Regions from separate parts of the Homo sapiens genome. Here region 2 is linked to region 1. Evidence: fine-mapped expression QTL. A gene starts in region 1. The other region holds a variant in brackets. All regions are shown on one strand. Distances are from middle to middle.

Region 1 (4,394 bases):
AGATTGAATTCCAGATCCTACATCCCTCTGTCAATCTGCCTGCAAGGTCTGAAGCTGGTCTTAGACCCTCTGGTGCTATGGTGCCCATTAAACAGACACTGTAGTCTCCTGTTAATAAGATTCAATTAGGAAAGGGGTGGAGAAGGGCACTCACCGCCTGAGAGTGTGTCAGGGAGGCCTGAGTGGCTGCCTTCATTTCGCGCCTGCTGGAGGCAGGAGGGAGGAAGGTGGTGAGCTCGCTCAGCAGGGAAGGCCAGGCTGCACCCACCTCCCTGGGGGCTGGGGAAACTCAGGGTGACCTCCAGAGCCTCAGGTGGCAGCTTACTGTATGATCGAGGTGATTTTTAATGTCTCAGAGCAGCCCCAGGGTCATCAGAGACAGACCAAGCTGTGCCATCTGGAAGGGCCAGCTTCGAATCTAGTTCTGGCCCCTAGGGTTGCACCAGTGACTTCAAGCCTCCAAGTCTCAGTTTCAGGTTCTTTGATTCTTGGGTCAAGTGAAGGGTGGAGATAAGCTGCCTTCTACCACCACGCCTGATACTTAGGAAAGCCCCAATATCTGGGATTGTTTTTGTTGTTTTGTTGAAAATATATATATATATATATATATTTGTTTTTTTTTTTTGAGACGGGGTCTCGCTCTGTTCAGGCTAGAGTGCAGTGGCACAATCTTGACTCACTGCAACCTCCGCCTCCCAGGTTCAAGCGATTCTCCTGCCTCAGCCTCCCAAGTAGCTGGGACCACAGGCATGCACCACTATGCCCGACTAATTTTTGTATTTTTAGTAGAGATGGGGTTTCGCCATGTTGCCCAGGATGGTCTCAAACTCCTGGGCTTGAGCAATCCATCTACCTTGGCATCCCAAAGTGCTGGGATTATGGGCGTGGGCCACTGTGCCTGCCCTTTGTTGCTGATTTTTAATCCTTACTTCCACTTTACAGATGAAGAAGCAGAGATCTAAAAGCATGTTTTTTGCCTGCAAATGCTGACATTCACTTGTCTTATTGCTAGGAAGAAATCTCTGTACTTTCGCGGTCTCTGGGAGGGCCCCTGGTGAGCAGACTGTCCCTGGACCTGGTTGGAAGCAGTTGTGGAGCTCTCACTACTCCCAGCTTCAGCTCAGTTGGTCCTTAAAAAGTCAGTTCTCTCCCCTTGCCATAAATCCCCACCGTCTCTAACTCCCATCACTACCCTAAAGCAAAGTAGGTTTTAAAAATGCCAGTAACACAAGTGAGAAAACTGAGGTCATTTAACGATAAGTTTGGGAGTAAAACCAAAAACAAAAAAGGAAACTGAGGCCCAGAGAGGTGCCATAACTTGCTCAGGGTCACACAGCACGTAAGTGCCAAAGGCAGGGAGCTGTAGCTGCTCCAGCGTGGATATGCCAGGGACTAGTGACAAGCCCAACCCCTCCAGCCCAACTCCACCCTTCCTCATGCCAACAAAAGGAGAATCATTTCCTATTTCTGGCATCTTTGCCAGCCCACAGAGACAGAGAGAAGAAGAAATATTTCCAAATATACCAGGCTGATCTTTCGTAGTTTCTCAGTCTTGCTGTCTGTTGTTGTTTGAAATCTGTTTCCCACGAGACTCTGGGAAGATGGAGGTGCAGGGCTTGGGTAACAGCTGCCTTCCTCAGGGCTGGGTACCTGCTCTCCGAGTCTGTGTCTCCAGGCTGTGTGCTCAGACTTGACCATGTTTGGGCATGGAGGCTTGCCCCAGATGGGGACCAAAAGCTGCTTCCCTGGAGACGGGCGGGGAGGCCAAACTTCCTGCTGAAGCTCTGTGGCCTCTTTTGGGGTGGGGGCGGGGGTCCAGGCAGAAAGAAACTGTCTGCTGCTCAAGACCCACAGGACGCCGGGAAGACTGTGAGTACCGGGCCTGAAAGCACTTGGGAAGTGATTTCTCTGAAGACCGGGCTGGAGGGAGACAGGGGAAAGCAGCCTGCCACGGGGCAGGGAGGGAGGCAGGCAGGAGGACTCCCTTCCTCTCGGGGCTGTCCTTCTGGATGGAGGGCCCGTGGTCTGGTGGCCAGTGGGGAGGGTGGCACAGTGGCCAGGTTACTCTGGTAGTAAGCGCCCTGGCCCTCTAGGTCCCAGTTCTCAGAGTGGCCAGAAGGCTGCAGCCTGGAGATTAACACCAATGCTGGCACTTGTCACCGGTAGAGAGGTGGGACAAAAATAGATTCATCAAGAGGGGTCCAGACTTCTGCTCCAAACTTTCAGGGTTTCCTTCGTTAGTAGTAATAGCTAATATTTACTGGGGGCTGATTTGGGGCTAGGTGCTATGATACATGTCTGATACTCAATATGGCATTTGATCTTTAGCTGAACTCTCTGAGGCAGGTACCATGGTTCTCGTTTCACAGTCATGTGGTTGCTAAGTGTAAGTGGCAGAGCCAGGATTTGATTCCATGTCTGAGGACCTCAGAATCGCCCTGTCCACACCCCACCAAACTGTTCAACAATGTACTCTATTCCTTGTCCTTCTAAGGAAAAGGATGTCGACCCAGCTATCAGGTCACCCAGGACACTCCAAAGTCCTGCCTTCCTTTGTCCTTCTCCATCTTCTCTGAATCTATCCCAGATCTCAAGTGACCTTTCTAAATGGGAAGATATATCCTGGAACTTCAGAGATATTTAGAAATGCTCAAAACTGGGAAGTTCTTCTTACAGTCTAACTGAAATCCCTCCTATGATAGCTGAAACCCACTTCTTCCTTTTCTTTCTGTCCCTTGGGGGATATTGACAGTTCCCATCCTTCCTCCCGCCAAAGGTTCTCCCTTTGGATGCTGAATACTAACTTCTTGCTGAAGTCATATCTACACTGAACCCCACGCATGGTCTTAGGAGGATTTATCATGACTCTATAAACTCACTCAGTGCAGGCAACAATCTCATCAGACCATTAGAGACGGGTCAGACCTGAATAAGCCAAGTTTCCAGACTTCTCTGTGACAGGGAAGCCTCTCCTTTCCTTTCCTTCTGAGCTCCTAAAACTGGTAAAACCAGGTTCCTGCCTTCACCAGCCTCAGGAGTGCCCAGGGGCCTGAGAGGGCACTAGAAGCCAAATAGCAGAGGAGGCCATGGCCCTGGGCGCTGGGGGGGGCTGATTAGCCAGGAAGGAGCCACAGGAAGCCCCCACAGGTGCGATCCAGTTCCCCCAGGAGAGAAATGGCTTTGTTGTGGGCACTCAGCCCTAGGCTTCCAAGATGGGATTTCCCATTGGCTTCAAATGATTTATGTCTCACAGTATCTGGGGTGGGGCCAAGTGCCAGTGACCCTTGCAGGTCCTGGGGAAGCAGGCTGTTGGGGCTTTTAGCTTACCTCCAGGTGATTCTGTTGCTTTACCTGTGAATACATGGAGAGTCTTGTTCAACTGACGCCAGGTAGAAAAAGGCATGGGCTCTCCCATTCCCACAAGATCACAGAACAGGAGGAAAAGGATTGAATAAAAAGAGTTGAATAAAACATCTCTCTTTGTCGGGGGCAATTTCTGCTTGCTTGTGCTTTTATAATGTCTCCATTAGAATGCAGGAGAAACTCACCTCCTGGTGCCAAATAAAGGAGAAAAAGTTGTCATTGGATGTCACCTCTGCCGATCGATAGGGGAGGTGGACCAGCTCACTGGGAAGGTGTGATGGGTATCCGTGGTGCCTGACCCTGGTCTCTTCCCTTTAGCGGAGATGCCCGGGTATGAGGGCAGCCTGGCTAAGGGGAGGGAGTCAAGAATCTCTGAATATTTGAAACAGTCTAGTAGTTAAGAGACGCCTGAGCAGAAAATAGAGCACTTTGCAGAAAATCTCTTTGGACTAAGGCCTGTCACCCGGACACTGGCTAATTAAACAAACAAAAACCATAATATGTTTATTACTTTAGGGACCTGGCAAGGAGAATAAAGTCCCCCTGATATCTGGCTAAAATTTCCCCTAAATTCCCCTAAAATTTCCCCTAAAATGGAGGATTACATTGATAGCTTCCTGGTATTTTTGGTAGAAATGGACTCTGGTTACTTTAAACAAATAAAAACAACAGCAAATAAATTTACCAGAGGCTCTAGGACAGCTTGCGGAACCATGGGAAATCACGCGGGGACCATGGCTGGGCATCTCTGTGGCTCCAGGCGGCATAGATTGAGGGGCTGTTTCTTGAAGTCTTTGTCAAGACTCACACTCCTGGGGGAGCGATCAGGAGCCTAGCAGGGGAGGGTGGAATCTTTGCTTGCATTGGGGTGGAGTCAATGTCCAGGGGAAAAACAAGGAGTTGCTGCCTAAAGAAAGAGGAGAGAAGGAAAGCAACCACCAGCAGAATGTGCCCATTCTGCTTTGTCCCAGGTGGCTTCAAGCCCTGAAATAAGAAAGCAGTCGCTGAGGCCACCATGATGCCTTCTTTCT
Region 2 (4,394 bases), 92 kb before region 1:
CACCAGCGCTGTTTCAGTGGAAGGCAGAATTGGTGGAAGAAGGCTGTGGAAGTTATTATAATTTTGGAGCTAATAAAAACCTCTCTCAGACAGGCTTGGCCTTGGACGTTACTTGACTCCCACAGCATACCAGATGAAATCTGGTCTCTGGGGACTTTTAAATCATCAATACCCAAGCCTCAGCAAAGACAAATTACATAAGAATGTCTGGGAGCTATGGCTTTTGGGGAGAGTGATTCCTCAAAACACTAACATCAGATATATCTAATTCCAGGCTCTGCCACCGCTCATCTGTGAGTCCTAGAGAAATCACTTCAGTTACTTGATCCGTGGTTTCCCCAAAAGTAAAATGAAGCAAATCATGGTGCAAATTTCATGGGGCTGTTGTAAGGGTTTTATGATATAATAGCTGCAAAAGGCCCCGTACTGTGCCTGGCACACATTAGGGATTCAAACATTGGCCATTGTAATTTTACTGTTATTATTCTTATTGATAAATATTGACTAATCGCTGGCTAAAATTATACCCTTCTTTGAACCCTGGGGAAAGTATATGAACTTGATGGTAGATGGGCACTGCTGGGGGAAGATTAATGGAGGTGTCCTGTGCTGCCTAAATAATAAATCTCTTCTCAAAGTGGACTCCAAGCAGAAGTGTCTTTCCTGTTATCAGCTGGTTGGAAAATATTAATATCACCCACATTCTCAATTGGCCTAAAACACCACCACTAGAGGAAATGCTAACATGGCTGGCTTGGTTTAAGACATAGACTGCAAAGCATCCCGTAACCACAGCCAACATTCTGTTAATCTTATCAGAGGGAAGCAGAATGCTTTAGCAGCTGATGGAGGGCAGGGATTTAAAGAATTCACTTTACTACCTACAGAAACAAAGAACAAGACTTGGAAACGGGGGCTCAGAAGCAAGAAGGGATGATTTCAGTTCTGATATGACCATACAGACCACTCAGGGAAAAACCCACCATGGATGAGTTCCTTCTTGTCACTATGAAATAAACTATAAAGAGCGATTGCTATAAAGCATGGGTGGGGTCATTCTCAATATTTCTTTCTGTCAAGGTAATAAATCCCAAATTCATAAGCCCCTTCAGATAAGGTTAGATGCAGGCCCCTCACTAAGGTGAACCTGACCTTACTTCTACACCCTTCAATTGAGTGACCAAGGATTGATGAGAAATATCAAGTATTTCATAAATATTTATTTTCTAAATATACAACTATAGAAAAGTGAGGTGTAACATATAGCTTGGATGAAGGGTTAAAATGTTAAGTATCTCATTGAGAAAAATGTGTTTGACATTTTTACATTAGAACAACATAATGGAGCAATGCTCACGCTAAACTGGGAACACTAATGTGAACTCAACTTAAATATTTTCCCACTTCTGTCACTAACAGTGGACACAGCAGCAGCAGCAGCAGCAGCAGCAGGAGTAGTACTAATGCCCACCACAACTCTCCTGTACCCCTAAATGGCCAGACTTTGTCTCTAACAGTTTTCTCCACTTAAAGAAACAGGGGCTCTTTGGAAGGGTTGTCCTGAGTAGGGTAAAACAAATGGTTTAAGCCTGGAAGTTTCTTTTGTAACCAGAAAGCAAGGATGCTTTCTAGAATATCACAGGGTGGTTCTGGAAGGACTAAGAAGCTAGATTAAAGAGGTTTCCTCTGGTCAAGCTCTGAGATTTTGAATATCAAATAAGATTGATGGCTATAATCAATTAAAACACATGGAGTCTGTGAAGAGCTGTAAGTTCCTAATGAAGCTATGAAGAGAAAAGTTGATGTAAATGGCAAATGCGATAGGGTTTTATTTCATATTATTTTTAATGGCAGATTTATATATGGGTGATATTATTTCTTCTATTAAATATATGTTGGGTTATTAAGCATCGATAGGCACTTTTCTCTATCCTTGTAAGAAGGAAAGAGTGAATTTTGAATACAACTAATAGTCCTGGAAAAAAATAGAAATTAGTAGTCATGCTTGGTAACATGTAAAGAGGGAACTGATAACATGGAAGGATAATTGGCCAAATGTGCTCGTAAGGACAGCAAACTGCAGGGTTTAAATTCCTCGTCTTGGCCGGGTGCAGTGCCTCACGCCTGTAATCCCAGCAGTTTGGGAGGTTGAGGTGGGTGGATCACTTGATCCTGGGAGTTTGAGACCAGCCTGTGAAATATGGAGAGACCCCATCTCAAATACAAAAAATACAAAAAATTAACCAGGCGTGGTGGCATGAGAATCTCTTGAACCCAGGAGGCAGAGGCTGCAGTGAGCCGAGATCACAACACTGCACTCTAGCCTGGGTGATAGAGCGAGACTTTGTCTCAAAAAAAAAAAAAAAAAATCCCTAGTCTCCTAGGAGATGAAGCGCACTTTAGGAAACACTCTGGTCTCAGAAAAGGATACCAATGTGAAGGCACGGACTTTTATATTCTTAG[G/TCAGG]CCACATTTAAGCTCAAGTGCAATAATGTTGGGAGACACTTTATCAGTTTCAAATAAGAATCAGTAACCCCAGAGCTGGCTGGCCTGAGATTATTTTTCTTTTGGTTCTGAAAGAAATTTGTATTCTTAGGAGAAACTGTATCACTTCATACTCTAATCCTAGGAAACGATCGCATTGACTCTAAGAAAGTAACAGAGAAAATATAAGAATAAGTATAAAAGTACTTTTTAAAACCAATATATACCCATAATCTTCATGCCTTTGTAACCAGTGTAAAGGTAAGTGTGCATATATATTTTTCAATCAGTATGACGTTTTGTGTGCATTTTTGCTGACTTTTTAGGTGTTTGAAACATTTAAAAGGGTCTGACATATTAAACTTATGGTTTTATTTAAAAGTGTTGGAGAGTGTGGTTAAATAATTTTGTAAACAATGGTTTATAAGTTTGGGAATTTTTAATTGTTTCAATTTTTAATAAGTTTTTGATTTATTAATTGTGCAGATAGTGTTCGAATGTCAAGAGGAATATTGTTTAATAGATGTATAAAATTCGGAAGTTAAATGTTAAACAAAGCACAAATATGAATCAGGAACACTAATCAGTGCTTTGTTTAATATTTAACTGATTGCTGAGTCAGTTTTGGTGACAAATATCCTACCAATGCATCACAGCCAAGATTCCAGAGCCCCCATGTGGGCAAAACAACTCGGTATTACCCTTATGGAACTGTAGTAAAAGCAGAAGGGACAGATACATTTTTCCTTGGGGTATGTCATGCTGAGCTTGCATTTTACTATGGCGATTCTTAGAAAAGGAGAAGTCTTCATGTCTTAAAGGAATTGATCAAATGGAGCTTTTCTTGGTCCTTTGCAGAAGGTGATTTAATTCTTCTATTAAATATATGTTGGGTTATTAAGCATCGATAGGCACTTTTCTCTATCCTTGTAAGAAGAGTGAATTTTGAATACATCTAATAGTCTTGGAAAAAAATAGAAATTAGTAGTCATGTTTGGTAACATGTAAAGAGGGAACTGATAACATGGCAGGATAATTGAGGGGGATCTTTGGGACAGGAGTCCTAACCTCTCCCCCAGTTTTCTCTGGTGCTTTCTGCTAGTGCCTGCTAAGACCTGAAGTTTACTTGTTTTCCATCAGAACTCTGAGATTCTTATTTTATTAAACCATATAATCAGGATTTTATAGTCTAGGAAAACATAGACCATTACCTGCTCAGCGCCTCCAGCTAGTGACATCTTAGAAATACAAGCCCCTAGTTCTCTTAGTAACCAAAGGAGTGGAGTCCTTTCTGAAGGCTTGAATTCTATCTGACACTACACATTTGTGGATTTCTCTGCTTTGATGCCTTCTTGACAGATAACGTGCAATCCCCCTTTTCAAAGTCTAAAGAAAACAGGATTGAAACATTTGGGAGCAAATGCCCTGCAAATATGGCCAACCTTTTTTTTTTTTATCTTCCTTTTCATTAACCACATTGAGAGTCATGCATGAAACTTAGATCTATATTGGTGTTTCATTTATAGGAAGTGTTCAGCTGTCTGTCATTTTTATTCACCCTAAGCATCTTGAACATCCTACCGAACTGTAATCTTGAAAGCTAATGCTTCATGAGAAACCTTTTCTTTTTTTCTTTAGAGCATACAAGTGTGTCCTATTTAAAAGGAACCCAAGATGCCAAAATTCTCACATAGAAACTTAGACATCTTGGCAATTGTTCTTGCAATGGAAAACTGGGCTTGGTAGAGAGATGGTTCCCCGGGGAAACTGACCATGGTGGAGTCGCACAGTCTTGCAGTAAGCCTTCGGACACAGGCTGAGTTCAGAGTCCCTAGGGCCATCTGGAGCTGCCAGCCAGAAAGTAACACACCTTTGTGAGGATGGCAGCCCGAGGGATCTACACTCCATCAGGA

Alleles and levels. Alleles are on the strand shown, and positions count from the first base shown. SD is a standard deviation of normalised expression in the study named.
As copies of G replace TCAGG in region 2, the expression in amygdala of the gene that starts at base 1,761 in region 1 goes down (moderate effect, 0.61 SD a copy in GTEx).

The links. PIP is the estimated chance that this variant, and not a neighbour inherited with it, causes the effect.
Region 2: its variant is fine-mapped to the expression of KCNMB1 in amygdala (GTEx, PIP 0.93).

The regions. Positions count from the first base shown.
Region 1 is chr5:170,386,734-170,391,127 of GRCh38, reverse strand. KCNMB1 (potassium calcium-activated channel subfamily M regulatory beta subunit 1) reads left to right here and starts at 1,761. Exons shown (of 4, transcript NM_004137.4): 1 at 1,761-1,869. It overlaps KCNIP1-OT1 (KCNIP1 overlapping transcript 1), which reads right to left and starts at 1,635. Exons shown (of 3, transcript NR_109899.1): 1 at 1,525-1,635. It also overlaps a transcript of KCNIP1 not described here. RefSeq lists enhancers at 1-219, 220-720, 2,645-3,145, 3,146-3,646.
Region 2 is chr5:170,478,452-170,482,845 of GRCh38, reverse strand. It overlaps a transcript of KCNIP1 not described here. Among named protein-coding and RNA genes, the nearest start is that of KCNIP1, 23 kb to the left of the region's middle. The variant G/TCAGG (reference allele first, on the strand shown) is at 2,464.